Regions from separate parts of the Homo sapiens genome. Here all the other regions are linked to region 1. Evidence: fine-mapped expression QTL. A gene starts in region 1. Each other region holds a variant in brackets. All regions are shown on one strand. Distances are from middle to middle.

Region 1 (6,140 bases):
GAAAATAATGACTCGGGCGACACTGCCCCTCTTCCTTCAATTCCATCCCTACAATGGTCTGCAAAACTATTCATGTTTGGGGGTCCAGATATTAAGTGGGGGTGGGTACATGTGGCTGAAAGAACACAGATTAGGCCTTCAGGCTGTGCCAAGCCAGGCCGGGGGCCTTTTTGCGTGTCCCGACATGGCAGTATGGTTGCTGCGTGCACTCCGCATAGCCCGTGTTGTGCGTGGCGGGCTGTCGCTGCAATGTGCAGCCCATTGACACTGATGGATGCGCCAATGGTTGGACGGACAGATGTTAGGGCGGATCGCACAGCGCTCGGCGCCTGAGCGGGGGAGGGCCAGGCAGCGACCCAGCGGCGGCGGCCGGCTACGCGGAGACCCGAGTTCAGGCCGCGGCCCGCAGTGGGAGGGGGCCGAAGGAACAGAGGTTTGCAAGAACAGCGAGGGGATGGAAAGGAGGAGAAAAGCGCGACCAGGGAGAACTACACGCTTCCGTGTGCGGCGCCCCGCGCTGTGCACACGCCGCACCGGGCGCGCCTAAGTGGGAGCTTCGAAGGTGAGCTGGGAGCCGGCGGGAGCTGACCCCGTGCGGCGCAACCCGCCTCCAGGCGACAGGAGCTCAGCGCGGCCACCAGAATGGTGAGGCCGCCGGCGGTGTCGGCCAACTCACCGTTTCCTCGCTTGCAAGAAGCGTTTCACGCTCCACGGCCGCGTCTCCCCGGCCTGGAGGAGTAGCGGTTCTGGCCTCTGCGGCCGCGGGCACCCAACGCGCACGGCGCCTCAGCCCCCGAGTCCGCCAGCCCGAGAGCCCCGCCGCAGCCCGCCTCGGACTCCCTGCCCCGCCTGGGGTCCGTACCCCACAACTCCGAGCGCTCCTGCGCGCGGAAAGGCGCTGGAGGCGGCTTTATAGCCGGGGAGGCCAGCGGCGGCGCATCTGCATCCTGGGAGACGTCTGGACCCAGCCCAAGCCCGCAGGCTGGGCGAGCGGAGACTTTTGATCTTACCGTGTGGGTGAGATCACTGTCTCCCGGTCTAAAAGAAAAGAAAGCATGCTGTGAACTTTTGAAACAAACTTGCAAAAACAGTCGTAGAGAAAAAATAAAAAGGACACAGGGCAGAAAAAGAGGGAGAAAGAGACTAAAAAAAGAAAAAGATAAGGGGAGGGGGAAGGAAGGAAGGAGAGAAGGAGGAAGAAGTCTGGGGTTTGCTGCTCCAGGAGCGCTCAGGCAGCCGGTGCTGGAGCGCGGGGCGCCCGCCCTCGCCGGGACTGTCGGCCTCGGGGCCTGCGAGAGCGCCAGAGCCCCAGCCGGCGCGCCCGGGCGCAGGGCCGCCTCGGGGATAGTGGGCCCGGAGGCCGCCCCCGCGCTCCAGCAGCCGCCGCCCGGCAGCGCCCGGAGCCGGCCCCGGCGCGGCCGCCCCATTCCCGGCCTGAGAGCTGGCCCAGGGAGACGCAATCGAGCCCGCAGCGCATCGATGCGCCGCCGCCCGCGCCGCTCGGGCTCCGGCTCCCGCTCAGCCGCCGCCGCCCGGGGGTCGCCCGCATGAGCTCCGGCCCACCCGCGCCCTCACCGCCGCCCGTAAGTGAGCCCGCGTCGCCCCGCCGCCCACGCCGCCCAGCCAGCTCCTTCTTGCCGCGGCCAGTCGGCCGGGCCGGCCCGGAGCCTCAGCGACCCCGATCACCAATCAATAATCAATCCCTCTAGTCCAGCAGCCCCGGCAGGCCGGGCGCGGGACACGGCGCGGCGGCCCCCTAGGCTCTCGGGGGGAGCCCCTGGCGGGGGATGGGCAGGGGAGCCCGGTTTCCTTCTCCCGCCCCCGTCCCGCCCTAGGATCGGCCCGCGCCGTGGATGGGGGGCGCGGCCCGGCTCCCGGGGGCGAGGGGCGGGGTGGAGGGACCCTGATCATCCCAAAGTCAGGAGAGGAAACTTGAAGGAACCCCCTCCCACACCGACCCCCGGGACGGGCCCAGGAAAGTTTGTCCGGGGAAAAAAAATTGGGGGAAGTGGCTACGGCGGGTCCTGGGGGAGGAGCTGGGTGGCGCGGGGTCTGAGGGCTGCCCCCACCCGCCCCGGCCCGCGCCCGCCTCCTCCCTGGAGGGGGCCTGCCCGTGGGCTCTGGCTTCCCCGGGGGACGCCAGCCCCGGCCCGGGGACCACGCTGGGGGCTCCGGAGTCGGCGGGTGGAGAGGAGTGCGAGCCGGGTGGGGCAGCTGGGGGGTGGCTGGGGACGAACGCTGGGTGGGAATAGGGGTGGGGGGTAACGAGCGCCCCGGGACGGGCTCGGCGGGGCTGGCGCCGCGCCCCCGCGTGTGCGCACGGGGCGGAGGCGGAGGGGCGGCACCCCTTTCGCTGGCGGGGCGGGGGTCCCACGCGGGCCTGGGGCCGGGGGCGGGGGCGCGGCGCCCCCGCGGGCGGGCGATTGACACGATCATCTCCTTTTCCTTTAAGCTTGCCTGTTGCCGACGCCGCCGCTCCAGCCGCGCCACGGGCAGAAGACTGGACCGCCGAGCCCCGGGCCGCGGCGGCGGCTGCGCGTCCCCCCGGATGCCGTGACCCCCGGCCTAGGGGCGGGGGCCGGGGCAGTACCGGTCCGGGCCGCTCCCGCGCTCCTCCTCCCACCGCTCTGCCCGCCCTCTCCCCGCCCCCCAGCCCCGAACCCCGCGCACCTCGTCTGGGGACGGGGCGGGGGGGGGCAGGGCCGCCGCTCCTCCCCGCCCCCTCCTCCTCTGGCCTCTGGAGCGATTTGTCAAACTTCCCATTCCGCCGGCAGCGCGGTCCTCCTCCTCCTCCTCCACCTCCTCCTCCTCTGCCTCCTCCTCCCCCCCGTGCTCCTCCCTCCCCGAGCCTCCCTCGCCCGCCCTCCTTCTTCCCTCCGCACGTTCGGGGTTCGCGGCGGAGCGCGGCGCGGGGGGGACGCGGAGAGCCTGGGCGCAGCAGCATCCTGCGGGCGGCCGCTCTCCGGGGGGGAGGCTGAGAGCAGGCCCGCCTCGCCCCCCCGCGGGCCCGCCGCCCCCTCCCTCCCTGTCCTCAGCCCGGCAGCGGCGGCGGCGGCGGCAGTGGCAGTCGCCGGAGAAGCATCATGCCGAGGAGGAAGCAGCAGGCGCCCCGGCGCGCAGCAGGTACGAGCCGCTTCCCCTTCCTTCTGCTCTCCTCCTCCTCTTCCTCCGCTCGCCCCGCGCCTCCAGCGGGCGCGACCCCGCTCCTCGCCCCGCTCTTCTGCCCGCACTGAGTAACTCCGGGCGCCGCTCTCCTGTTTGGGTGCGTGCGCCCGCCTCGGGTACCGGGCGCCCCCCGGACGCCCCGCCGCGCTCTGCCCTCTTCCCTCTCGCACCCATTTGGGGAGCCGCTCGCGGAGCGCGCTGAGCCGCGCCAGGTCCCTACCTCCTCAGCTCTCCGGCTGCAGAGGGAATGGGAAGCAACCCCGGCCTGGCTCTTTCTGTGGGTGGCGGGCGGGGTCACCTGAGTTCCCCGGGACATCTTCCGCGTCCTCCGAGCGGCCGACCGCCGGGGGACTGCCTGGTGTCCGCCGAGCCAGGGAGCGCGAACGAGTGAGCGAGCCGGTCCCCTCGGCCACCTTAGTACTAACACGATTGATTCCTCATTTCTTGGGCCCAAACTGGGCACAGCGGTGGAACCCGGAGCGCACAGGGTCTGGGTATTGTCAGATGACTGTCAAGTCCATGTTAGATGCTGGCGTTTCCTTCTCCCCTGTTTGTGTTTCCTCGCCCCCACCCCCTCCTTGTACTGCTGCTCCCACCCTCATCTCCGCATAGCACTTAGTTCTGGGACGTGTCTGAGTACTTTTTTGTTCCTCCTTTTTTTTTTTTTTTCTTCTTCTTTAACCGGGAGTGTCAACTCCTGTTAAGACTGAGCCGATTTTTTTCTTTTCTTTTCTGGAAAACGCATCATTGAAAACAAAACAAAAACCACACACATAACATTATTTTGCAATAATGTCGGTTGGGGGCATGTTGCCTGGAAGAAGGGTTTCTGGCCCGTTGCCATCCTTGATTTGATGACTGATTGATCGCCCGTCATGCTGCTGCCTTTGATCTATTCATTCCCAATAAACATCAATAAATCACTTGCAATAGTGAGGCCAAGCTCTGTGACGTCAGGAGGGCCCTGTCAGTGCAACTTTGGGATTTGGGGCGGATTGCCGAGAGGACCACATATGGACGTGATGTATTTTGATATGAGTAACACTCAGATGTGCAGAGGTTCAGATGCTCCCTGAAGGGGAGGGTTAAGTGGGGCTTCCTTTCTTTTCTTTTCTCTTCCTTTCTTTTACTTCTCTTTTGATGTTAAGAGGGAAGGGCAGAGAGTAGGGTCAGGGCATTGGCTGGTGCCCATCTTGGAGGAAGGCGTTGTAGCCATGGTGCCCTGAGTGCCCATAATTTCCATCATGCCAGCCGGCACTGCCAGGGGACCTCACACGTTGGCTGCACTCTGCACTCCAGACCCCTTACACGGGGTCACAGAGAAGGAATGATAATTCTCTCTTCTCCCAGAAATGTACTTGCCTGCCAGTGTCTTCAGAAAATCTCAGAAGAAAACAGGGTTGGTTTGGGGCTTAGGATGCAGGTTTTGCTCTCTGTCCTCGGTGTTGCCCAAATTTAGAAAGTTTGAAAATTCCAGGAGTGATTGTAGGGAGCTTGCCGCCTCCCTAGTTAACCTCCTGGAGCTTGCTTCTTGCCCGTCCCACCTTCTACTTTAAATTCCAGGCTCAAGCAATGAGCTTATCTACCCAAAATAAACTCTGAAACTTTGGAGGAATCCTTCACAAAGTTGAGTAGTAGGAATGTCTTGGGCTTCTTCCAGTCTTTGAAATTTTTTTTTTCTTTCCTTTTTGGATACACATTTTAAGGTATGTGTGTGCCTCCATCCAATGAACCATATGTGATTACATCTTTACATTTGGTTCAGAACTCTCTCTCTAGTTCATCTCTTCGGTTGCACCCTGCCAATCTGAGACTCGTATTTGATAGCTTCCTCCAGAAAAATATCAGAGGAGGAGGGAACCTGCTGTTGGCTTTATTTATTTATTTATTTATTTATTTTTAGAGCAACCTGTTCACTAACCTTTTCACACTTTTTTTTTTTTTTTAAAGAAAGCCAGCCAGGAAATCTCAGGTCAGTTAAGAAAAATTCATTATATAAAAAACTTGACTGCAGGACTAATAGGAGATGGAAGAATGGTTTTGCTCTATCAAAATGACCCGTCAAAACGACTTTGTTTCATATTTGATTTAATTGTCTCTCTCCTGACAGGCACATTCATCAATAGCTTAATGGTCAATCAGAAGCTGGCAGCATGAGTGCTTTATTTCTTTCCCATACTCGGGTTTTGGATTTACTTTATCAGAATGCCTCTGCCTAATGGACATGTGGAGGAGGGGGTGGAGGCGGACTGAAGAGCTACTTATTTAAGAAGAGTGGAGAGAAAAAAAAAAAACTCCACATTTAGGCTGGTGATAAGTATGCACAGAGGTTTTTTTTTTGGGGGTGGTTTGTTTGTTTGGATGGACCAGAAACTTCCCATTTTTTTCTCCTCTTTTTTAGTTTTCCCAGCTGCAAGTTATAAGGTTCATGCCAGCTTTTGTGGCATACTGGGAGTGATGACAAATTGATTGCTTTGTACTGATAGAGAGAGAGAGTGGGGAAAAGAAAGATGTCTGCTGATTGGTAACTGGAAATCCAGTCCCCAGCAACCTTGAGAATACTCGAGAATTTTTTTCCCCTCCAAACTGAAAGGTCCGCTCAGCCATAAAAAAAGAAAAGTTGTTTTGCCAGCTTCATTAGTGTTCACCTAATTAGCTGTAAACCTGATGGATTCCTGACAGCTTTAATGATTGGAGATGACAAGCTCGACGCAGTGTCATCCAGCAGAATTAGGTTTGCAGCTAGTTTGATGTAATCAAGTTGATATTACACAGTCCTGGCTGCCTTTAGTTGTGCATTAACTCAATTTTCTGCTGCAGGTGACAAATGGGCTTTGGTACCTGGATAATCATGTCATAGGAATTAGGGCCCTTTTAATGGTCTAGGGTAGAATAACAACCACAAAAGGCCAAGAGCTGGGTAGGGCGAGCAGACGTGGCACACAGGTACACACGGTCTTCATATCTAGGCCAAT
Region 2 (6,140 bases), 32 kb after region 1:
AGCACAGAAGCAAACACGAGCCTAGTATTGCTTGGGGGTCACGCATTCATGTCCAGGGTCATATTTACCCACCGCCTGCCTGAGCGGTGGAGAAGCCCCGTGGTCATGTTGTCATTCTCAAGTTGGGTCCTTGTTCACAGGCATTTGTTTGGTTATTATACTTAAGAACCTACATGTATATTTCATCTGTTTCTGTATAGATCAGATGTAACCCGAGAAAATGTTTCAGGGTGTGAGCTCCCTAATACGTCAGGTCATCTGCAGCTCTAAGCTCTGGTTTTTGAGCCAGGCTGTAGCGGTTACGTCCTAGTTTAGGATGATTTGGCAAGAAACTCTCCATCACTTCTATCAACTGCGTGTGTGTTGGAAAGAATTAGGAAGGAAGGGCCGATTGCTACTTTCTCAGGGGGGCTGCATCTTAAGAGTCCATATATGTCATTCAGCTAATGAAGCCTGCCTTCCTGCCCCTAGTAGCAGCCTTTTTTTTTCAAAGCAGCTTAAGTAGAAAGAAAACTTGTTTCAGTGATGTTTGTGCTTTTGAGGGCGACAAAAGGTGTTACACTGTTGTTTTCTTTGTGATTACCGTTGTCATGGTGGTTATTTGTCCCTCTTCAGTGTTCTAGTAGAAACTTTCTGCCTGGTGATGCTTTGAGGGGCTATGAGCTCATGGTGGGTGAGCCCGGGTTTCCTCAGGGCCTGCCTCTCAGTCCTGCAGAGACATCAGTCTCCCTCAGTGGTGGGCTGGGGCTCAGGGGAGAAGCCCAGGTTGTGGCTGGGTTTTGCTGTGCAGACCTGGATATGCTCACCTTAGGGTTTCAGCCATTTTCACTTCTTCAGTGTGGCTTAATTGTTTGTGTCTCACCAAGTGATCTTCATATATATGAGTAGCTTTTTTTAAAAAAAATTACTGATGAAACCTTTACAATGTTTATTGGAAACAATGATTTATGTGCAAAATTCTTAAAGAAGGAAAACCTACTTTTCTCTATTTTGTAATAGAAGGCTTTTGTGTTGACAACGTTCTTCTTTTTATCTGCAGCTGAGCCAGCCGTCTTGGCAGGTGCTATTCATAGCCTGCTTGTTTCTGCAGTGTTGCTAAGTTGTGAGGTGGGGATCCACACTTTCCTTAAGTCCTGTTGTTTTTCTCTATAGGGGAATGAACTAGGTGGCTTTTAACAGGAGACAGTTTTGACGCCTGCTTTTTATATTCAGATGTACTCACCCAGGAAAAGCAACTTCTCAGGTCCCTGGTCTCCGGCTCAGAGGATCCTTGATCAGACAGAGCTGAGATTAATGAGCTGCTTTTAGCCATGGCACCAGGGTGGTAGGATTGTCTGGGCCATGGGAGGAGCCCATGAGGAGGCACCAGAGCTGCTATAAAGCCCTGCTCTTGGGACTAGGTGTTTGCCACAGTATTGGTGACCGGATCGTTTGTTCCTGATAATGGAAATCTCATCATTTAGAGATGGCAAGTTAAGATACTTTTATTGAATGAACTTCCTGCGAAGTTTCTGAGCCATAGTTGGGCTTATGACATAATTGCTATACATGTTGATACCATCTTTTATCATAATTGTTTTTCATTGTTTTTAATAAAAGGATAAAAATAATAGGAGACATTTTAGAAAGTGGTTTTTTTTGTTCTTTTATTCATGATACTAAAAATTACCCAAAATAAGATATTTTACAAAAAAAGGATTTTGTTCCAGAAGTGACTAATTTAAATCAGTTTATACAATGAACTTGCTAATGATCCTCAGTCTAGAGAAGTGTAATGCTTTTATACTGTTATCATTTTTTATGAATAGAATTATACAAAAAAGTTCCTATTGTGTTGTACAGTGAGTTTCACACAACCATCCTTTATCAACAGATGGCAACCAGCACATGAAAAATAATTAAAAAATAAAATGAAAAGAAACCGAGAATGAATTAAAGTGCTTCTTTGCGTTCCGATCTGCATTTTTGGTTTAGAATTTTTATGGTGAATTGCCATATTATCTGTTATATCAGTTTACAATGAGGCTCCTATCAGACATAAAACAGATTTATAATACCATTAAAATACAATATCAAAGAATGAATAAGCAATTCAATAAAATTACAATAACACAAAGATAAAATGAAAGCCTTTTCAATAACAGTTTTATGCAAGAACATTTTGCAGATAAATATGTGTTTATAGATCTTTTAAATGTATATTTATTATACTGTTCCTAATAGAGCCACAGGGGTTAATTTTTCCTGTGTGTTGTCTTTTATAAGTGGTTTAAAAGCTAGCTGCAAAACTCTTCAATAGATTGTTTTGAATCTTTGAATTGATTTTGGTAAAGGGAGCTTTTACAGTCCTGCAGCCGAATGTTCACACACAAATGAGTCAATACGGCTGGGCCCTTTTACCAGGGGTGGGAGGTGCCTGGAGGAGCTCCGTGGTCACCTGGGACCCAGGCGTGAAAGAGATGCAGAGGGAAAAGTTTATAAATGAAGTTTGATTCTGTATGCTTTCCACCCCGGATGTCCGGGTCAGATTTCCGGAAGGAAAGTTAATGAAAGCCAAGCATGATGACAAGCCGCCCCTTCTTGGGAGCAGCGGGGCAGGCGTTTGGGACAGCTGCAGCCAGTCTGGGGATGCGCCCTGCTCTCCAGACCCTGCTGTTCTCCTCACACCTGGCTTGGTGCACCTTAATTACACAGCCTGTTTCCTTCCTTTGTCTTGAGTCTGAGCAGGGAGTTCCTTAGGCCTTCTGTGATCCTTGCTGTGCTTGGCCAGTAGGGTCAGTGTGGCAGTAAATTTGGGGTGAGGACATAAGGACCAGGAGACATCACAGGGAGCTTCTGAATCCCTGGCAGGTCCTGGGTTGTATGGTGCAGCCAGGGTCCCCCAGCTCTTTGCATCTTGCCCCATCAAGAGCCTGCACTGTTCAGCATCCCCATCGTCCCGATGTGGCTGCAGTGGGTCACACCCTGGCCCTGGCATGGCTCGGCTGGAACAGCTGCCCAGAGATGGCTGGGGCATTAAACTACAGCATATCAGCGTTTTAATGCTTCCCTCCTAGGCAGCTGTGGCTCTGGCTGGGGCTGGGGCTGGGGGCATGCCCAGAGAGCTGGAGGGGAGGGAGGCTGGTAAAAAGAAAAACCCGTTGGATTTTGTTGACGGATGAAAAAAATCCTGGAGAAGAGAATTTTGTCCCTGGAAAAAAGTCTCCTGCGACTAAATTTCAACTCCCGTGGTCCTTTCTTTGTTGTAATTCCTCTGCAAATCATTGGCATCATCTTCTTCAAATTGATAGAAGGTGCCAGGCCCTTATAGATTGCTTAATATACTGTAGGTAATATGGGTTGCAGTAGAAAATAAAAGCAAGCAGAGAATATTTGGCCGGAGCATATGTGACTCAAATAATTGAGAAATAAAACGGGAAAACGACTAGAAAGACTGTTCAGTGACACAGCGTACAGTGAGCTGAGGTGGGGCGGGGGTTGGCTTCTGTCTCTCTCTGCCTGTTTCTCCTTCTCTCTCTCTCTCCCCATTCTTTCCCTCTCTGCTTTTCCCACTTTTCCATGAGGTGGAAAGCAGACACTTGAACATTTCCTTCCCTAACAGCCCCTCCTCTCCCCCATGAAAATTTAGAATTTTGCTTTTTTACTTTCTTATTTCCTCTCTGTTCCAGAAAATTTTAGTACACGACACAGCGGCTGCCGCAAATAGCACTATTTCCCCAGCCCAGGCT[G/T]TTTGATTGCAAGAGGCTTGATTGCATCATTAGTCCTGAAGTGCTGTGCTCACTGAAACACGCCAGCATCTTGGACATTAAAGTGGCATCCTGTTGTGTATGAGGAGAGGCCTCGTACACACCACTTCATCTTGCAAACCTGCCTTTTCCCCAGAGTCTCCGAGCAGCATTAGGTAAACAATTACAGGAGATGACTTTAGAGGTGCCGTCTTCCCCTTTAATTCATGCATACAAGCATTCCAGTGTTACTGCTGCAGAAAACACAATGGAGTTCTCACAAACAGGCTTTGGGAGATTTAGGCAGATTTCCCCCTGGAAAATGGGAAAGGCATTTTAAGTAGCAGGGAACTCCTGCCTCCCTCCCTGAAAACAAAGCTGCTGGTGTTGGTGCTGCTTTCATCACTGAAGACTTTGAGATCCTCCTGCATTTTGGACTCTCTTAGGGGCGTCAGACTTCTTCTATCTGTTTTAATATTTATTTCCTTCTCCTTACACACCCACCCGAAGTGCAAGTCTAGTTTTATATAGCAGTAATTATTACACCTTGCCACTCTCTCCCAAGTTGCTACTTGATTAGTGCTGAATGGGTAAAAGTGACTAAACCCTTCTCTGTGGGAAAAAAAAATGGTCGATGTCTCTTTAAAGTCTTTGTCCGGCTGGTTATTTTTTATATGAGCTCAGCTCACATCACTTTTTATTAGCTTAATAAATCACCTTTCTTGTCAATCAAGCAGCAGAGAATAATTGGATATGGTTGAAGCCTTGCGTGATGGATTATAAATCATTCAAGATTAAATTAAAAGATAATGCACAAACTTAATGGTTTGTGTTTTGCAGTCTAAATTGCCTCGGAGCACTGCTGTTTTCAGCTTTATTGCCAGCCGTTTTTCTTTTCACAAAACCTTTCTGATTTTAGCCCCTTTTTATTTCTGTTTATCATAATTCCAATTGTATTTCTCATATTTACCTTTTAGTGCTTTGCCCATCCAAGCTGGGTGGCGAGTGAGGGAAGTCTAGGGCGCACACACCCAGCTCCCTGGCAGAGGGCAGGAGGGGCCCCACTGCTGCGGCCTGGCCTGGCTCTGATATGATGTGTCCTGCCACCTGGCAGTATCCAGCACCCCGCCCCCAGGAGTAGAGCTTCCTGAGTACCCCCAGCCAAGCTCCACCCTTTGGAGGAGAAATGGACTTATCAGTCCCAAGTGATGAACAGACCGGGGACGCTTTGGGACAGGGCGGGGCTGGGGGAATCTCCTCTATAAGAGGTCAATACTGTCAGTAAATTGGATGGCTGATGTGAGCCTCGAAGGAGAAGGGGAAAGAGAAAAGAAAAAGAAACAAAAAATAAATATCATGAAAGGAAAGTTGGATTGGTCATATTCCAAATAATGCGCCTTTCAGCATCTGTTCCAGGTAGCTCATACATTTCTGCTGGCCGCTCGGGGAGAGCATAGGTGATAGACATCTCTTGGCAGAGTTGCTTTCTTCCCTTGATCTGTGCCCAGGACAGAAGTGTCCAGTGCAGCAACCCCTGGTGGCAGGATTCCCTGCTTGGGATTACATCCCATGCTCTCTATCTGTCCAGCACGCATCTGTAGAGTTTAGAAGAAACACACAGAGGGATATAGGACCCGTCGTCCTTTCTCATAGAGGTAAGCACCTCCAGTGTCTCAGGAGCCTGGCTTCTCCCAGGGGCCATGAGCTGAGCCTTCCCCTGGAGCTGTGCCCCCAAATTCCTTCCCCTTCTTTTTATTTCACTGCCTGCTCTTCCAGACAGCCCCGGAGGTGGACACTCAAGGGGTCTGAGAATGACGGTGATTACAGAGCAAGGTTCATCCAAACGGTTAATTTCTCCCATTCTGGCTACAAAGTTAATTAATGTAATCTAACGCATCTTGAGGCAAAATTATGCACTCACATATGAATAAAACCCTGATCTATTGCAAAATACGAATCTGGCACTCGGAACAATTCACAATCACTCAAATTACAAGTTATGCACAAGAATGTAGTATCACAAGGGGATGTGAAATCCTGTCATTAGAAATGATTCACAATGCATCAGAAACCCGGCCCTGAGAAGGTTGGGCAGAAGGAGGTGAGCAGCCAGATAGCTGGGATGGACTTGTGCAGAAGCAGGGGTGCAGGCAGAGCCCCACCGTGCAGGTGAGACACGGTTCCGGCCGCTGCCCATGTGGCTTCTCAGGATTGCAGTGATGGCCGACCATGCCTCCCTGCCGCCCGCTCTCTCTCCCATGGCTCTGGAAACACCCTTGCCTGCATGTAGCAGTGCTTGGCAAAGGAGGCTGGCATGGCTGGGGCCTGGCCTCAGCATCTCTCGTGCAGACTGTAGGGAAAGAAGGCCTCTAGTCCTGGCCTTAGAAGCCGGAAGGAGGCATCCTTTCTGGTTGT
Region 3 (6,140 bases), 250 kb after region 1:
GAGAAGTCGGGTAACTTGTTCAAGTATCTTGCAGGTAGTGCGTGGCAGAGACAAGAGTCAATCCTGTGGCCACAGACCCGCTTTCTAGAGGGGCCTGGAAGAACTGTGGCTTTCCTTCCAGAGCTGAGCCAAGTTTAGGGTGTCAGTAAATATTTGAATGAAAGCATCATTGAAAGATGTCCTCATGGCTAAAGCAATAGGAAAGCTCTGCGGAGTCGATAAGTATCCAGCTCAGGCATGAATTTTTGTGCATATCTCTATTAGCTGCTTCCAGGGATCAAATTTCGGAGACCAGAGACTAGCGAGGCACCCTCCCACACACTGTTCCTCCGTGTCACACACTCACCCTCATACAGAGGTCATGGAGAATTTCCAATGCTCCCAAGCAACCCTTAAGAATCCTGCCCAACTCTTGGTGTCAGGATAGTTACTACAGAAAGTGACCCCACTCATTTCCTGCCATTTCTGTTCTAGATAAGACACACCCAGATGTCTTATGCAGGACTGAGCAACTTCTCTGCAAAGTCCTCAATAAAATGCACTTTGATTCTCCTCCATAAAGGCATGGGTGCATGTCCAGCCACACCCTCAGAGCATTCTGGATAGAGCACGACACACACACGCGCATGCACACACACACACGCACGCACACACACACACCATCTTACACTGAAACTCAAACTGGCTTACAGTTAGTTCCCTATCAAGAATTAATGCAATATCATGCACACACCATTACTGAAAAATTCTACGCTGTTTTTTGCCAAGTGTTCCTATATAACAGTTTTATCACAAGTCTGACAGCCTCCATAAAAATTCCAGGCATTCTATATCAACAGCCCTCTTTGTACTAAGTTATTAAACATTAAATTTTTATTCGTCATTTGTATTCTGTTATGCAAAATAAGCTCCTTGATAAGATGTGTCTTCTTAATTGGGCCCTTGATGCTTCTTGGATCGGAGTTGTCAGATTAGCTGGAAGAAGAGGCACTGCGTTGAGCCAGCTAGCTACCAGGAGACCAATAGCTTTGTAACAACGATATTAAGTTAGAGAGGCCAAATGGAGGGCAGCGCCAGGCTCAGGTGAGGGTTTGCATCTGTGCATGTCTTCTGCTCAGGCACTTTTCTCCTGGCATCAGCAGGGCTGATGGAAATAGATTTGTTTGTTGTTTACAGCATGCAGCTGTGGGCAATGCTGCATGGGAGTTGTATAAGATTGAAGCAAATTTGTACTGAGACTAAAATACGGAGCTTTGCTCCCGTCAGCAGTCTCTGGAATCTTATTGTCGAAAACTTTATCTAGTTGTAACCTTCCCTAGGGTGATTTCCATTTGCAGCTGCCCTGTTCTGTCTCTCATCTCCTGTCCCCCACCGCCACCGTGGCGTTAGTACTTAGCGGGAGCCAGCCAGCCCCGGCCGGAGCTCCGGCTCCTTCCTGACAGGGCCACACACAGAAGGACCTGGCGACAGGGCGGCCATTTTCTCTCCCAGCCCTGCCCCGGTCACACAGCCTGTGCTGCCAGTCCCTGGCTACTGCCGTCTACGCTCAGCTGGACAGGATCCGGGGACTAGGGACACTGCTTTCCAGTCTGGCGTGGATGGCCAGAGAGCCACCCGATCTTCAAGCAGGGGAATTGCACCTGACAATAAATTATTTGCTGTATGTTGGAGCACATGCGTGCACCTTTCTAGAGACAGTTCTAATTTTACCCGGAGAGGCCTGTTCCGCTACTGCAAGTGTCTCTTTGTCCTCAGATGCTATTGGGAGGAAAAGAAAAACAAAAAAAAAAAAAAAAAAAAAAGCTTTCTGGGGATCCTGGGGTAAGGTCAATTATTCAGTGGGGACACACGCCTCCATTGTTAGGGCCAGCTGGCCTGACAGACAAGTCGTGTGCATTTTCCCTGATAGGACTCCTTCGAGTCTTTAGAAAGTAGTGTGTGTGTATGTGTGTGTGTGATATTGGTGTTAGTGTGTATCTGTGTGTACTTGTGTTTTATGTGCCTGTGTCTATATGTGTTTCTGTGTGTGGCTGTGTGTGTGTGCGTGTCTCTGTGTATGTTTGTGTGCATGTGTATATGTGTGTTTGTGTATCTGTGTGTATGTGTCCGTATGTGTGTCTATGTGTGTGTCTGTGTGTCTCTGTGCCTTTGTGTATGCATGTGTGTTTTTATGTGAGTATGTGTATGTGTGTATCTTTGTATTGTGTGTGTCTATGTGTGTATGTTTACATGTCTATGTGTGGATAGCGTCTATGTGTATATTTGTGGTGTCTGTATGTGTATAGATGTGTCTATATGTGTAAGTGTGTGTCTATGAATGTATGTGTGTCTATGTGTGTATGTGTGTATATGTGTGTCTCAGTGTGTATGTCTGTTTCTATGTGTGTATATGTGTCTATATGTGTGTTTGTCTATGTGTATATGTGTCTATGTGTATATTTGTGTGTGTCTATATGTGTAGATGTGTCTATGTATGTGTCTGTGTGTGCACTGTGTCTTTGTGCACGTATGCATGTGTGTTTGTATACGTGTACATGCATATGTGTCTATATGTGTCTGTATGTCTATGTTTATGTCTACATGTGTATGTGTGTGTCTATATGTTCATGTGTATGCATGCATATATGTGTGTGCATGTGTGTATGTGTGAACATGTGTCTATAGGTGTATATATGTCTATGTTTGCGCCTATGTGTGTATGTATGTGTGCATGTGTGTGCATATATGTATGTGTGCCTGTGTATATATGTGTGCATGTGTGGTGGGGGTTCTGAGGCACTGGAATATGATTTTCCAATCTTCTGTGGTTATTGAGCCATTTTATTCAGGATGCCTTTTAAGAATGTGGTTCGTCCTCCCTGACCAACTTCATATCCTTAGCTTAACCAGGAGAGAAACCCTCTGGGCTGAATTTGTCTTCATGTGCTGAGAAAAGCCTGCTGTCCAGGCCCCATTGGAGGAGGGCAGGCCTCAGCCATATCTGCTTCCCGGAGGAGCAGGAGGCCCATTGCTCACTCCCCCATGTAGCCAAAGCCTCCAAGAGGAAGGAGGAAGAGGTCCCACCCAGTTTAGCTAGAGGCCCCCCTGCAGGGGACACCTCTGGACCACTTGGGCTTCCACCCAGAGCAGGCTCCCACTCCTGAGTCTGCCCATGCTGACCTGGGCTAGACCGGGTCTTCAGTGGGATTCTGAACCTGTCCACGGAGATCTCCTGAGTGTGTAGCTCCACTTGGAGTAACTGGTCTGAGTTTTCTGCTTTGCTAGCTCTGAGTTTTGGGGTCCTAATGGGCTTCTCTTGTGGACACCT[A/G]GAAGATCTGCACTGAGGGAATGGAGTGGATGTCTTTGCACCTGTCAGCAGGGTCTGAGGTCTTAGAGAGAGACCAAGTGAGTAGAAAAGTAGTGAAGTGTCTAGAAAAATGTGCATGCATAGCCTTCAACTGTTTGTGCAATACCTCATCTCAATATCCAATCAGGTACCAATGCGTTATCCCCAAAGCCATTGTGGTGAGAACAGGACTACTTGCTATGCCAATGCGTGCTGTTACACATACTATGATTATTTGTGGTTTCAAGAGACAGAAGTTCAACTAAAACTTGTTTCAAGTAATACATAAATAAAAATGTATCATCTCCCAGGGTACAATCCAGGGATGGAAGCTGGCTTCAGAAATGGCTGAAGTCAGGTGCTGAATGACACCAGGAGAACTCCACCTTTCCCATCTCTGCTCTGCGTTCCTCCACACTGGCACATCCATAGCTCATCTTTCTCCAGGCAGTGCAAGATGACCACCAGCAGTGCCAAGCTTCTATTTTGCCTGCCTAGAAATCTCTGTGGAAATAGCAGACCTGGCTCATGAAGACACCAGCTAAAATCTCAAGGCTGATTCTCAGTGGCCCAATTTGGGTCATAGTTCATCCTGAACCAGTCGCTCTGATGGAACGATGAAGAGCTCTTGAAGGTGGCCGCATGTGGCTTCTGTGTCTGCCCTTAGAACCTAGCTATAGGGTCAACTCTGCCGTGGATGGAGAACTGGGGAGAGGGAGGGAAGACTGGCCTATCAACAACATGGAAAGGAAGAAAGAGATAAAGGTTGTAAGAGCCATTTCTACAGACTCCGAGTCTTCAGACTTTGGGGAAATGGCCCAGCCCTGCTGGCTCTCGGGCCTTTGTTGGGAGGGCCTGTTTGCCCTCTTTAGCCAGGTCTCCCATTGTGTGCAGCCCCTCTGTGATCCAGGCCCTCCCAACCTCTTGCTGCCCCCAAGATGTGCCATGTACTTCTAGACCTACAGGACTTTGTTCATGAGCAACCATCTGCATGTAAAACCTGTCAATCCATGACCCTCACTCTCATCAGTTTATGCCTGTAAGAAAATCCCACCCAACCTTGTAGCCCAGCTCCAAGAGCAGGCTCTCCAAATACCCTTTTCCTCCTTCTACCCCCCATCAGTCACCTGACCCTCTGCTTCTCCCTGTTGAGGGTGATAACAAAATCCTTCACCAAGTGCCACCGTCTGTATATAGCAAGCTCCTAAAATATCTAATTCATATTAAGCACACAACATAGTGAATGGCACAGACCAGAAGCTCAGTTGAGTAGACAGGTGAGCCCATAACCCCCTTGTGCTGAGGACTCTAAGCTTGTAGCCCAAGTGAAAGAGACAGAAGAAAATGAACAAGTAGAAGATTAAACTTCCAATTCCAAAGGTAGGACTGAGTTTCCTCTACCTTTATCCTCTTTGATAACACAACAAGGTCTAGGTGGCTATAACGTCTACAAAATTAAGCCCCAGATTGCCACTGAGGATGAGGAGATTTGATGGCCTGAGTTAGCCCCCAAAGAGTCCTGGATTCTCTGGGGAATGCCCAGGCCTTCATTTCTCAGGTCCCCCCACACACAGGCTATGCGAATGATAAAAGACAGACATTATCTACATTCTAAATACATATAGGTTAATGAAAAGATCACTATTTTCTGGTAATCCATAATTCTCCCAAGATAGAGGACTCCTTCCTGTATATTCAAGAGCCAATAGCCACTTGGACTGGAGTGGCCTTGGTTTCAGCTCCTGGCTGTGTTTTGACATTTCAAATTTGTAGAGGTCATGTGTGCAGCGGGAATGGCTTTCTAGAACACTGATGATAATATTCCTGGCAGGCTCAGGCGCTGGAAATTCCGGTTTCAAGATATCTCATTATCTGCAGGTGCCATAATGGGAAGCTGAATGCAGAGCTGTCAATCATAGAGGAACATTTGGAAACGCAGCAGCCACATAAAAGCGTTCCCTGACTTACCCCCTCTGCTCGACGAAGGGAGGAAGGAAGCTCAAAGAAATCGTCTTGCAAGCAGTTCAGCGGCATCAAGAGGAACACAGCGGACTGAGTCATCTGATGTATATGGTGCCCACTAACAGGCCCCATAAAGCGCCTGCCTGTCTCCAAAACTGAGCCTCAGGAAGGCATCCCTGCCTGCAGAGGTGCTGTGGGTTCTCCTGCCTCTTGACCTTGGGGTTTCACCAATAAGGCCATGCCATGAAGGCATAGTCTATTCACTTTCAGACTCTATATACAATTTTGTGTTCCTTGCAAACTAACTGAGAGAGACTGACAGGTGAGACAGGGGCTGGGGATGTGTAGGATGGACATTTGAGAATACAAGTTAGTTTTGTCACATTCAGATAGTCCAGGGCTTTGGGGGGACTGGGAGACGGTGGAACCCTGATGTTTTTTCTGTCCTTGCTGTTTGGCCCCACATTAGGGGGCTAGTCTTGAGACAATCTCACAAATTCCCAAAACAAAACTCAGTTTGGTGTGCTGCAATTTATTTGAAAATAAGATCTCAGGCCTTAAATACTAGCATTCATAAATGGAGCTGGTAAGTGGAGGGCTCAGCACCGTCACTAAGCAAGGTTGCAGGGACTGCCTTCTGTGTGGCTGGCCAGTGCTGGTGGTTCCTGGGCACCTTAAGAACAAGACTTAGAATTAAAGGATTTCAGAGCTGGAGATTTGCAAGGATCCATGGACAAGAATGAATGAACTTGTTTCACTTTCACTCAGTGTGAAAATAACACACACAGATGAAAGACAGAGGCCACCATTGCAGACAGCTCCCTGGACAGACAGGAATTACACAAAGTGTGGG
Region 4 (6,140 bases), 330 kb after region 1:
GTAGATGTAGAACATTCCCATCACCACAGAAAGGTCTATGGACGGTGTTGTTGATGGCCAGGGAAGGACACAAGGCGATGTGCTGGACTTGCCCCTGCCACTGTGGTTCCCAAAAGAGCAAAGTCAAAGGAGCTTTCTTTCTTCTGTTGTGCTCCAGGCAGAAACAGGGACTCCCAGAAACCCTCCCCACACTTGGGCCTTTAACAGCGTTATTTTACACATGCACTCCATTGAACTCCACTGTTATTCTATCTCACCCACCTAAATCCAGAGCAAATGTCTCACCATTCGGAAAAATTACATGAGAGAAAACCCCAGACGCGTGCATGGGGCTCCCTGTGAAATTGAGTCTTAGTACATTGAGTTTAATCCAAATGTATTTCGAAAACAGTGGTTTCAATTGTTGTAAACTACAGAACACATGGAGAATCCCTGGAGAAACAGATGTTAGATCTTCTGATAGCAGTAAAACATCCAAAAAAAAAATCTTGTAAATATGAACAAACTTGACTAATAGAGTATTTGGCAGTTAAGGAGATAGGAATGCATGGTGAATGTCACCTGACTTTCTAAAATAGTGGCATGAGTGTCATTAAAAAAGAAATACTCTTTTAAATGTCTGTTATTTAGTTTTAAAATGAAAAATATTGAATAGTTAAAATTTATTAAGTGTAAAATTGGTTTTTAGAGTGCTTTGGAATGGTAGTTACCAGAAAGCAAAACTTGAGAAGTCATTGATAGCAGCTGCTCAGTAAAAAAAAAAAAAAAAATGATAATAATAAAGAAAAAATCAAGAGGCTAATTTTTAGGACCAGGTTCATGGTGGAGCCCATGGGTTCATATAAAAGGCTGTTTTTGGTCCGGGGCTCATATCCTGGGGAGCTCTATAGTCACAGGCAGACCCAAGTGTGATCCCCAAGGACCTCTGTTCTGTAAGTAGTTCAAGCCAGACTCTGAGAAATTGGAGGCCCACACACTTGGTCTAGCTGGTGCCCCTTCAAGCACTCTCTCTTACTCTTATTATTATTTTTTGTTTGTTATTGTGTTTTGTTTTGTTTTTGTGTACGTATATGAAAATTTGTTGCTAGAATGTAAAGAAGAAAATGAGAGTATGGGATGAGGTAGTAGGGATGACAAGTTCAGAAGGCTCAATTTTCTTTTCAGGGTAGGGAAGGTACATGTGGTTCAGTTATCTAATTAGTTTGATTTTTTTTTCTTTTTTTTTTTCTTTTTTACAAATGTAGGGAACTCAGGAGAAGTGGGGTTAAAAGCAAGAACTCACAGAATATAGTATTCACATGTTACTGGACTCAAGAGAAAGCATCTGTAAACAAGGGCTTAGAAATGACAACTGGACTCCTGAAATAGATGGAATCATTTTAACACAAGTTACTTTGACATCTACTTGTTTCTCTTACACTGAGCCACACTTAGTCAGTACACATCACATAAGAGAAGAAGAGAGGCCAGCTCATGGGCAAGAGCTTGAAGGTCCTTATGGCCCCTCCTTCCTTTGCTCACCTGCTACGTACAATTGGTTCAGACTCTGCCATCATCCTGAACACGTTCCACTGTTAGCTTCCGTCCATGGCTATGTTTGATCTCCAAGCCCTGAGTCTCTGGAGAACAAGGCCATGTGTAATGCTGTGCCTCCTCAGCAATCAACACGTCTGACTTTTGTAGTAGATTCCATTAGAACAGATGAATGAATGAAGCGACATTGGAGGTACAGATATGGTTTGGCTGTGTCCCCACCCAAATCTCATCTTGAATTGTAGTTCCCATAATCCCCATATATTGTGCAAGGGACCCAGTGGTAAGTAATTGAATCATGGGGGTGGTTACCCCTATCTTTCTGTTCTCCTGATAGTTAGTGAGTTCTCACAAGATCTGATGGTTTTATAAGTGGATTTTCCACCTTTTGCTCGGCACTTCTCCTTGCTGCCACCATGTGAAGAAGGATGTGTTTGCTTCCACTTCTGCCATGATTGCAAATTTCCTGAGGCCTCCCCAGCCCTTTGGAACTGGGTGTCAGTTAAATCTCTTTCCTTTATAAATTAACCAGTCCCAGGTATGTCTGTATTAGCAGTGTGAGAATGGACTAATACACTTCATTTCTCCCAGGCCAAGAAGCCTGGGTAAGAGAGCCATGGTTGCTCAGTCAGCTTGGAGGATTGTCTTACGATGCTGTGCAGGTTTTTACCTTCAGTCCTGCAAGCTCCTTTTTCTCACAATCCTACACAAAACTGTAACCAAGTTGAAGATGTGAACAAGTGATGACTGTGTGGTCATCCAATGCTAAGGGCCCAAGACTGCAGTGTATATTTCAAGGTGTGTCTTCAACCCTGCCTGGGGTATTTAAAAACAATACCAGTTCTCCGTGACTCTGTCAACCAACAAATTTTATAAACATATATTTGTTGCTCATCTGCTGTGTGCCTAGAGTGTGTTCTCTCCAGGTGTCTCATCCTGCTAGAGGTTAAGTTTCCCCAAATATAAAGAGCCACGATTTCCAAGGAGAAGCTGGCTGGCTATTTTTTTTACGGGAGCACAAAAGAAATGGCCTATCAATTTATTATGCATCATCTTTCACATCTTAAGAAATAGAGCAATAATTACCAAATTTCTCTATTTAAAAAAACAAGTCAGTACTTTATACAGTAAATATGAAACTGTACCATGATCTACACATGTGTGAGTTTTCTGTAAATACAGAAATTGGATATTTGTCACTGCAACAATTCACTGCAATTGAAAAAAGATAAATAATGGATGACAATGCCACTTGTTTGTTAAAATTCTACAGAAAGGAAACATATACCCGTTATTCCTTTCATGAATTTGGCCACCGAAGGTTCATACATAATTGTGCTTCACATTTACTTCTAATTAGCTGTGAACCTGATCCAGGCCATGCAAAGCCCAGAGCAAAGGTATTTTTCCAGTTCTTTCTCTCTTGCCTTGGGCAGAAGAGGCTGGAGTCCAGGGAGCAAAAGTCCCTTGAATGGGTGCTGGGCCCATAAGTGCTTGGTGCATGCTGGGCGATGCTTGATAAACTGTTCATTGCTCATCTCTTGCCAGGACAGGTGCAATTATGGGCCTCTGCTACTTGGCACCCTTCACTCACCAGCTTTCAGCCTGTTCATCTGGGCAAAGTATCGATGTTTTCCTCAAGGGTGGGACTGGTATAGGGACCCTGCCAAGATTCCTATCCAAGGGATCCAAGATCTACTGAGCATACTCTAGAAGCAGCTTGAAGATAGTTCCCATTTAAGCTCATAACTTACTACATTGGCCTAGGGAGCATGCTGGGGAGAGGACCAGAGAGTGAGGGAGGTGACAGCCACAGGAGCCACCTGACCAGCAGGGGACAGGATGTGGTGGATGCACATTCAGCTCCTTATCTTTCTGTGG[G/C]ACCATCTGAGGCGCATTCTTCATAGCGTCTGCCAGAGGAACACCCGTGCTGTTGGGCCCCAGTTGCCCACTGCAGTAACTTCCTCACTAACAAGACCTTATTGGCTTTTCTTCCTTCTCTGTCTCACTTCTCCCCACCCTCTCTGTGCTTCCTGTGGTCACCCCCTACATAAACTCCTTGCCCTCAAAGCCTTATCTTGCGCTCTGTTTTAGGGGAACCCCAAACCAAGTCACTTGTATCTTGACCCAGGCAGGCATATTACTGAGGGTATCATGTTGCCCCTTCTGCCCACACAGCTCCACCAGGAAAAGTGTTTCTGTCCTGGCTGTGTCCTTAGGAGGGTAAGCCCTGCCTTTCTGGTCCTGTTGGCCCTGTCTTTCTGGTCCAGTTGCCCCCTGGTCATGTTGCCCCTTCTGCCCACACAGTTCCACCAGGAAAAGTGTTCCTGTCCTGGGTGTGTCCCCAGGAGGGAAAGCCCTGCCTTTGTGGTCCAGTCCTCTGTCCTGTCCTCAGGCTACCTCATAGCAGGGCCTGGCTCCTGGGAGGTGGCCAAGCCCTGCCTGCAGATGCCTAGCAGGCCCACTTATGAAAACTGGTCCCAGGAGTGATGGTGTTAGGATCCCGCCCAGTGCTCATGATGGGCAGAACCCCAGGGCACAGAAAGATCTGAAGTTCATTAATCAGGGCAAGCAGCAAGGCCTCTGGAGACATTTCTGCTGACTGATGATTAAAACAAAAAAGCAGAGTGAGGAAGACTACCCCAGTTCGTGAAACCCACCCACTCCCAGAATGCTTCTCACACTTTTTGCAGTACGCCCAGTTAAAGGGGCATTTCTGGACATTCTTGCTGACAAGCACATTACTTGAGAGCCAGAAATCCTAACCAGGAATCCACTGCCTATCTCTGTGTCTATCCTTTGTCTACCCTTCCCACCGGCCATCACACACTTTTCCTTCCTTCCTCTCTGTCTCTCTCCCCACATCTTTTCTTTTCTTCCTTCCTCCCTCCCTCCTGCTATCCTTCTTCCCTCTATTCTGCTCTACTCCTTCCCTCCTCTCTCTCCTTTCTTCCTTCCTCTCTCCATTCTTCCTTCCTCTCTCCATTCTTCTCTTCCTCCCTCTCTTTTCTATATCTCCTTTTTCCCTTCTTTTCTCCCTCTCCCTTTTTCCCCTTTTCCCTTTCTTTTTATCTTCCTCCCTCCCTCCCTTTTCCCATCCCTTCTTGTCTTCCTCTCTTCCTCCTTCCCTCCAATCTTTTCTTCTTTTCCCCCCATTTCTCTCTCCCTCCTTTCCTCCCTCCCTTCTTCTCTCCCTCCCTCCTTTTTTTCTTCCTTCCTTCTTTTCTCCTTCCCTCTCCTTCCTTTCCTTTCTCCCTCACGCCTGCCTTCCCTCATTCCTCCCTTCTGCTCTTCCTTTCTCCCGTCTCCCCTCCTTCTCTCCCTCCCTTCCTCCTTCCCTCTCACCTCTTTTTTCTCTTCTTTCTTCTCTTCCTCCCTTCTTCCCTCCCCCGACCCTTCCTCCCTTCTTTTCTCCCTCTCTAGTCTCCCTATCCCTCTCTTACCTTCCTTTCTGACTCCGTTTATTCTTCCCTTTCCTCCTCTCTCCTCTCTCCCTCCAGAGCATTCTCCTGCCCTCAGGTTCTCCTTCTCCATCTCCTCTTGCTCTACCAGGATCTTTCACTGCCTTGTGCTCTGGGACTTCTGGGAGCTCTGAAGCTGCCTACCTCTATCATGGAATGAACCTTATCTTAACACGGGTAAAGATGGAAAGAAGCCTCTCTGTGGAGTGTGCCATGTCTTTCTGTAACTCCAAGTGGTTTTTCTCAGGGAAAGGGACAGAGGGGGCCAAAGCATGGCTGGACACCTGAGGACAGGTAGGACCCAGTAGGGACTTGTTGAGGGCTGTTTCCAAGGAAAGAGGTCAGGTCCCCCTCTTGGGAAGGCAGCACCAGTTAGGAAAAGCTGCCTACTTCTTACCCAGACTCTCCCTCCTCTTTCTCCTGTTTCTCTTCCTCCCTGCCTTTCTCAACAAGGTCAAGGCCACACCAGTAGCAAATCCTGCCCAGATTTAATGTGTGGGCGAGTGCAAGCCTGGTGGGAAGGTACAGAGAGAAGGCTACCTTCCCTTCAAATCCACTGAACATCTTAAACCACTTCAGGGCTTTGAGGAAACCCAGGTTGTATTTTGCCAAGCACGTTTCCTGTTAATTTTCATACCCAAGTGTATTCTAAAGGAAATGAAATCCACATGTTTCTGATCATTTATACTTAAATCATCAAAATATTGCCTTTTAGAGGCTTTGTGTGTCAGGAAACACTTTGAACCTTTTTCACAGCAGTGTTCACTGCCTCATGGAAAGGCAAACAGGAAGTAGTGATCTGCAGAGGGCATTCCAATGACCCCAGGATGGGTCCGGGGCACCCGGGGTTGGACCCTCCTCAGTGGGCCTGGGCGGGGGCCTTGGGGCTGGGGCAGGAAAGTTGAACACTCTCAAACATCTGGACTCCATCCCTGGTCAGAGTCATGGACTTGCTTGGGGACATTGGGCACAACCATTTAACCTCCTGGGGCCTCAGTTTCCTCCAAAGTCAATGGGACACTTCAGAGAACTAATTTGATTAAAGCACTAGCTAGGAAGGAAAACAAGATTACAAGAAACATAAGAAGCATATCTACCAAACACAATGTGTGGACCTTACTCCCTCCCTGAAACAAAGTATAGCTT
Region 5 (6,140 bases), 20 kb after region 1:
AGGTGACATCTTCTGCAGTCAGGGAGGCAGGCTTGGCTGGGGCCCAGCCGCTCTGCCCTTAGAAGCAGCCACCCCTCCTTACGAAGGTGCAGCGTGCTCTGGTGTGGAAACATAAAATGGACGTTCTGTGAAAATCAATTGACTGTCCCGGCTGGACCAGACAGCTCTGACACCACAGTAGGTGGCAGGTGGTGAACATAAGGTACCCAGAAACCTTGGCCGCAGTGACACAGTGAATGCAGCCGCTGGCCTCCTTCCTTGCAACACTATTTGTAGTTTCTTCTCTCTGTGCGTCCATGGCATTTCCAGAAAATGCATCTTGAGTTGACTTCCCTTCGTTATGACACAGCACTGCAAGCAGGGTCGAGCTGCAGTTGGGAAGTTTCAGGGCACATTTCGGCCACATCTGCTGGTACCAGTAGGACCGTGATTGTTTTGGTGGTTGTATGAGTGCAGATTAATTAAACAACAGTAACAAAACAGAACAAAACAAAAAAACAGCAATTCGCAGCAGATCTGAAATATCAGTGACAAAGACAAAAAAAATGATAAATAAGCTATTCCAGGCTATGAAAGAAAATTAATGCCCCTTTAACTCATCACTGCGCCAAAAGTAGATAATAAAGTGCTTACTATGAGAGCGGTTTTACAGACATGTTTCCTGAGGCTCTGGTACAGGTGAGCTCAGGAAGGCCTGGTGTCGCTCTGTCCACATTCCCCGCGTGCCCTCTGAATCTCTGATGCTTTGGTTCAGCCCGGGGGTCTCTCTTAGGCCAGGGTTACATGCGCCGTTTCCCTCCTTCAGTCCTTAGAGGGAAGGAGGGGGTATCCCTTTCGGTGAGTCATAACTCTGCCGTTGGGTTGGGCAGCTCTCATGTAGAAGGGAGATTTTAGGAAGCCCGTCTTTGCTAGAATTTGCCTGGCAGGCCCTGCGTTTCCCATTGTCCTTCTGCCACCATGGTGACTGGGGACATGCCCGTGCCTGTGGGGGACAAGCATGCATGTCAGTTTTTGGGCATGTCAATGCTGATTCCTGTGCCCTGGGGTACGGCCCACCTTCTCTCGGTAGAGCTGTGACCCTGCCAACAGGAAGTGCTGGGAAAACAAGCTCCTGACACCTCCGTCTGGGGTCTGGGGTCGCCTTCTCAGCGTGGGCTGCTTCATGACCCATAGGTGTTCTGGACTTTCCTCCCCCCGCCCAAGGATTAAACAGCACTTGGCTCCTTGTTAAAAGCACATTGATGTTTTGAGCCCAGAGGGAGGTGTGGATCACACAGCAGGTCAACAGCCTCCATTTTGCACCCCGCCATTCCCTGTGGCTGGTTAAGGTGGGAGTGGGTAGGGAGGAGAAAACAGAACTAGAGAGTGACATTGGGGCGATGCTGACCGAGGGTGTGACCCAGGCCAGGCCAGGCTGCTGTGGCCACTGACCTGCTCCTCCCTGCACTTCACATGGGAGCTCGGGCATTGGGAGCCGTCAGGCCAGTCCTCAAGGTACGGCCAAGCAGCCCGGAGGCCACCTCCCGAGGCCTGTGCTAGCAGCTCCTGGTCCATGCCTGCCGGTCAGCTCACTGCTCCACCCCTGCTAGGCGTTAGATGTTTCCAGAAGGCCTGAGGGCCAGGCAGGTGAGGGGCTTCAAGTTCACTCAGGGCAGCTGTTGAGAGTTTAGCGAGTTTTATTTTTGCCCCCAAATTTAAAAGTATCACGGAAGGCAGAGCTATTACAGAGAGAAACCAACCTTTTGGTTATCACACAGCAGCTTTTATGAATTAAAAAAAAAAAAAGGATCTTGACCCTCTTTGAAAGGAAATAAAGTAGGAACCCAGTGTTAAGGAAAACAAAAAAGCTGATATTACAGTTTTTATGATTACTCATATCCTAGGCTGGAGCTTGAGGAAACCAGTTATAATGGAATTTCATTTTTTTCTCTTCCTAGTTGTGTGTCTGCGCTCTTTTTTCCATTAGAATGAGGAGTGGTTCATACTTGGTGTGGAAAAAAAACACACAACAATTTTGGCATGTGATCCTTGCTCTTAGTTGACCCAACGCTGATGGGACTGAAGATAGAATTATGCGGCCTTGTAATTAATTATCGAGCTATAAGGGGAACTGTGGAGTGAAGAGAGAAAGGGATGGAGTTACACAGGGCGGTGTTCCTGCCTCTCTCTCCACAAACACCCCCACTCCCAAGTGCTGTACCCAGGTTTAGCTTTGACACCATAAATAATGCATCTTCCGATATTCAGAAGTGAAAAATCTAAAGCCATCTAGTGGTTCATTTTTATTGGTAGCCACTGTATTAGCACCATTTAAAAACACTATTTTATTGCTGTGAGTCTGCAAGTTGCCAGTAGCAGTTCACCAATTTCACCGGTGTGAGGTGAGGGGTAAGATGATGACCAAAAGCAGAGATGCCTCCACTCTGCCTAAATTAAATGTTTGTGCAAGTAAACTTGAGCGTGCCCATTGCCAGGGCTGACCTTATACCACTAAGTTCTTGCAGTGGCCTGGATGATTGTAATGGAGGTAACGTGATATAAATGTAAACTTTAGCCCTGCTTACACAGAATGCACAAGGCAGCGTGACACCTTCATTTCAGTAGTAAGAAATTACCATTGTCTCTTATTTCTTGCTCGGAGCTTGGGTGACCAAGCCAAGAAGTAATTACACAATTAGGGTTGACAAAGCAGTTCCTGTAACATTTCTTTCTCTTAAGTTTGGGTAGCTTATTTCAACTTCACATTTTCCATATCTTTGTCATTAATAACAAATATCCGTTTTCAGTGCAATACATGTGCCGCATGAAGATTGGGAGCCTAGTGTAATTTAATGATGAAATGTGAGCATTTCATTTTCTGTAAATGTGGCTCTTTGAAGTTTAAGGTAGACATCCAGGAGCTCACACGGCCCCTGTACAGGAAGTTGACTACCAACTCTTCCGCAAGTGAGATTGGTGAACAGTGATTGGGAGCCACTCCC[G/T]CTTAGGTGACAAAGATGTTTGAAAGGATATGCAGATATGTGACATGGCTTATCTGGAAGGCTGCCTCTTCAAAGTCATCTCCCATTACTATGGCTCCAGATAATTCTTTAATCTTAAATTGTGTTATCTGCAGTATGTATACGGTATTGTAATTAATTGTCACCAACTTAAAATATAATCTGTTTGGAGTTTATATACCATCTAGGCCTGACCCTTACCTAAAGAAGAAAACACCTCACAGTTTCTCTCTTCTTATTTGTTATTGGATATGAAAGGAGAGAGACACTCTCTACTAAAGAAAAATAGACCTGTTAAGATTTAACCCGCCATTCCTTGAATAAGATGTTCTCAGAACTTCTGTTTTGGTACCAGCTAATGCTGCAAACAAGCTTTGAAACATGGATGGCTCAGCTGGGAGGTGAATGGCCTGCAGGAAGGTTGGGCTCCATCAGCAGGGGCCAGTCCACTGAAGCAAGTCAGTCCTGCTGCCATTTGTCAGCCTGGGCTGGCCTTCCAGAGCCCATCCCTGGTGTGGGAGAGGTGCCAACGTGGCCCGCAGTCCCCGCTGTTTTATAGCTGATGCTATATGCACACACCCAAGGCTTTTCAAGGCTCACACTCAGAGAAGTGCCCACTGGTCTTCCCCTCAGGTGGACAGAGTGAGTGAGTTCCCTGCTCCATGAGCCTAGCACTTCGCTTTTCAGCAAAGGTGCCTTGGTTTTGGGTGGATCTTGTATAAATGAATTCTAGCTGGGGGCCTGGGCAAAAGTTATATTTCTTCTGACAGAGTTTGTAGCAACGTTTTTCTTAATTATTCTTGATGTTTTGCCCATTATACCATTAGCTTCTTCAGAGGACAGAGATAAATAGCTGGTATCTGCAAGAACAAAGTGTGAACTGAATGCATTTAATTATTGATATCTCAGTAACTAAAGGCTCTAGAATGATGTTGTCAAATGCCTTAGTGATCTGACAGCCGATGTATTGGTTTGCAGATGCAACTAGAGACAATGTCCATGTAAACTCTAGAGAAAGAGAACACTAAACAAATAAGAGAATATCGTAGTTCATTTTCTCATTTCTTTATTTTTTTTCCCAGTGCAATTCGTTTCATTTTGTGTATTGGATTTTGAGGTTTAGGGGCTGTGCAGGGTGTTTTATTTCAATATGTGGTAAGATACAAATTGCCTTCATACTATCATATTATTGCCTTTAAGTATACTGCCTGGCTCAGTTACATATACACTGTATATTTATATGCGTGTATACGTGTATTGTGTGTACATATATGTATTCTTACATATGTATGTATATGTATGGTACATATGTGTATCACCTAGTGGAAATCAGTGTTCTCACAGTCTTATTCTTATCAGAGGGATTTTTAAAACTAGCCTTATATGCATGTTTTCAAGAATAAAGCAGAATGCTAACAAAGTGCATTTTCCTTCCCTCTCATTAGATATCAGATCCCTTTCATATGTAGAAAAGTAAGGATTTCAGGTATTTATTCTGACATGTTGACATAACTCCACATATTCAGTTACCTCAATTTTTAAAATCTATTTTACTATCTCTCACATGTAGAATATGATTCCCAGGGTTTAAAACACACAAGGAAATTGATCGCTGTTCAAAAATGTGCAGCGGTAGCCCAGAGGCTCAAAGTCTAGAACCTCGAGCTACAGGTCTCAGGGAAGAAGGGAATTGGTCGAACACATCCAGTAATGCCGTGGAATATTCTTTTTTCCTTTGAAGGTTTGGCTTACAGTACTGTTCTCATGATCATGTTTAATTCTATGTTTTTTCTAAGGGCTTTTTACTCCTCTGCTGGTTTTTTTTTTAATGAAACAGAAAGCTGCTGCCTTTCAGTAGCCTGGCTGAGTGCTGTAAGGAAGGAGAGTCTACATTCTGGACTGCTCACTTCTCTCCAGGATGCCTTCTCTGGCGTTCCTCACATGGAGCTGGACTTCTCCCCTGTATTTGCATGCTTCTCTGGCCTGTGCACACTGGCACACTGGGGCACACATAGGGTTTCCATCAGAGCCGAAGGCTGCGTGAGACTTGGGGAGGATATTTATTTGAAGTTGCACAAATGTTTACAGTAAGGGAGACTGAGACATGGGCACTCGCAGTGCAGAGCTACCCTGAGCAGAGGAACTGCCTTTCCCTCCTGTCTTCCATGTGCTCCGTTCTCCCTAACAGCAACAAACATGCTGTCTTTTGCAGCTGCTTACTTGGAAATTAAATAATGAGCCTCCTGAAGATGGTTGCTTCACACTCCGAGGTTTCAGCCCCATGAGAAAGTGACTTACAGCGATAGATGAGGGGAGGTCAGCACCACCCTCACTGTGCAGGCTCCGAGCATCTGGGTGTGGGTGTGTACGCGTGCTCATGCACACACAGACACACGCAGGCACGTGTGCACATGCACACACACGCGCCAGGCTTCTAAGCATGCAGGGCTGCTCTACAGAAGCTACCTAGAGCCCTGAAAGATTTGACAGTAGCTTTCTCTCATGAAAGTGGATGCATTGTCATTCTTTAAATTAAACAAAATGATGTCCATAATGCAATATTCAAGAGAATCAAAGGGTATGCAGTTAAAAGAGAGTCTTCTTCTAACCCCAGCTCCTCAGTTCTTCTCCCTAGGGGCAAGCACCGATACCAGTTTGTAGTATAGTCTTCTAGATATTTATGTTGGTGCAAAAGTAATTGCAGTTTTGCCATTAAATTAAAAGTATATTTTAAATATTTTAAATGAGAAATCCACACTTTACACTCCATGTTGTACCTGTTTTTGTCTAAGAATATACTTTGGATATCTGCAGTTTACTTTGACATGCATCCAAAAGTTAAGATACATGGAATGATGGGTATATATGTGATAAAGCAAATAAAGCGGAATGTTAAAGTTTTAAACTAGGTGATGGGTGTACAGGCAAAATTCTTTAAACTTTGCTGTGTATATTACATTGTACATAATAAAATGGTGGCAAATCTATGTATCTCAGTCATCATCTTATATCATGTTAGGTTTCAGCTGCTATATCCTACCATATTTTGTTGCACAGAGCTGCCTTATACTTTTTAAGGGCCACGTTTGACTCTAGTGAATGAGTTACCCTCTGCATGGACATTCTGGTTGCTTCTAGTCT

The links. PIP is the estimated chance that this variant, and not a neighbour inherited with it, causes the effect.
Region 2: its variant is fine-mapped to the expression of TSHZ3 in whole blood (TOPMed, PIP above 0.99).
Region 3: its variant is fine-mapped to the expression of TSHZ3 in whole blood (INTERVAL, PIP 0.97).
Region 4: its variant is fine-mapped to the expression of TSHZ3 in whole blood (TOPMed, PIP above 0.99).
Region 5: its variant is fine-mapped to the expression of TSHZ3 in whole blood (TOPMed, PIP above 0.99).

The regions. Positions count from the first base shown.
Region 1 is chr19:31,346,163-31,352,302 of GRCh38, reverse strand. It overlaps TSHZ3 (teashirt zinc finger homeobox 3), which reads left to right and starts at 2,867. Exons shown (of 2, transcript NM_020856.4): 1 at 2,867-3,123. The coding sequence starts at 3,084. It overlaps TSHZ3-AS1 (TSHZ3 antisense RNA 1), which reads right to left. Exons shown (of 3, transcript XR_002958388.2): 1 at 3,386-6,140.
Region 2 is chr19:31,314,152-31,320,291 of GRCh38, reverse strand. All of the region lies in intron 1 of TSHZ3 (teashirt zinc finger homeobox 3), which reads left to right. Among named protein-coding and RNA genes, the nearest start is that of TSHZ3-AS1, 4.6 kb to the left of the region's middle. RefSeq lists an enhancer at 921-1,422. The variant G/T (reference allele first, on the strand shown) is at 3,729.
Region 3 is chr19:31,091,573-31,097,712 of GRCh38, reverse strand. No RefSeq gene overlaps it. Among named protein-coding and RNA genes, the nearest start is that of LINC01791, 73 kb to the left of the region's middle. RefSeq lists enhancers at 937-1,436, 549-1,561. The variant A/G (reference allele first, on the strand shown) is at 3,308.
Region 4 is chr19:31,013,298-31,019,437 of GRCh38, reverse strand. No RefSeq gene overlaps it. Among named protein-coding and RNA genes, the nearest start is that of LINC01834, 110 kb to the right of the region's middle. The variant G/C (reference allele first, on the strand shown) is at 3,415.
Region 5 is chr19:31,325,766-31,331,905 of GRCh38, reverse strand. All of the region lies in intron 1 of TSHZ3 (teashirt zinc finger homeobox 3), which reads left to right. It overlaps TSHZ3-AS1 (TSHZ3 antisense RNA 1), which reads right to left. Exons shown (of 3, transcript XR_002958388.2): 1 at 1-6,140. Among named protein-coding and RNA genes, the nearest start is that of TSHZ3-AS1, 7.0 kb to the right of the region's middle. The variant G/T (reference allele first, on the strand shown) is at 2,982.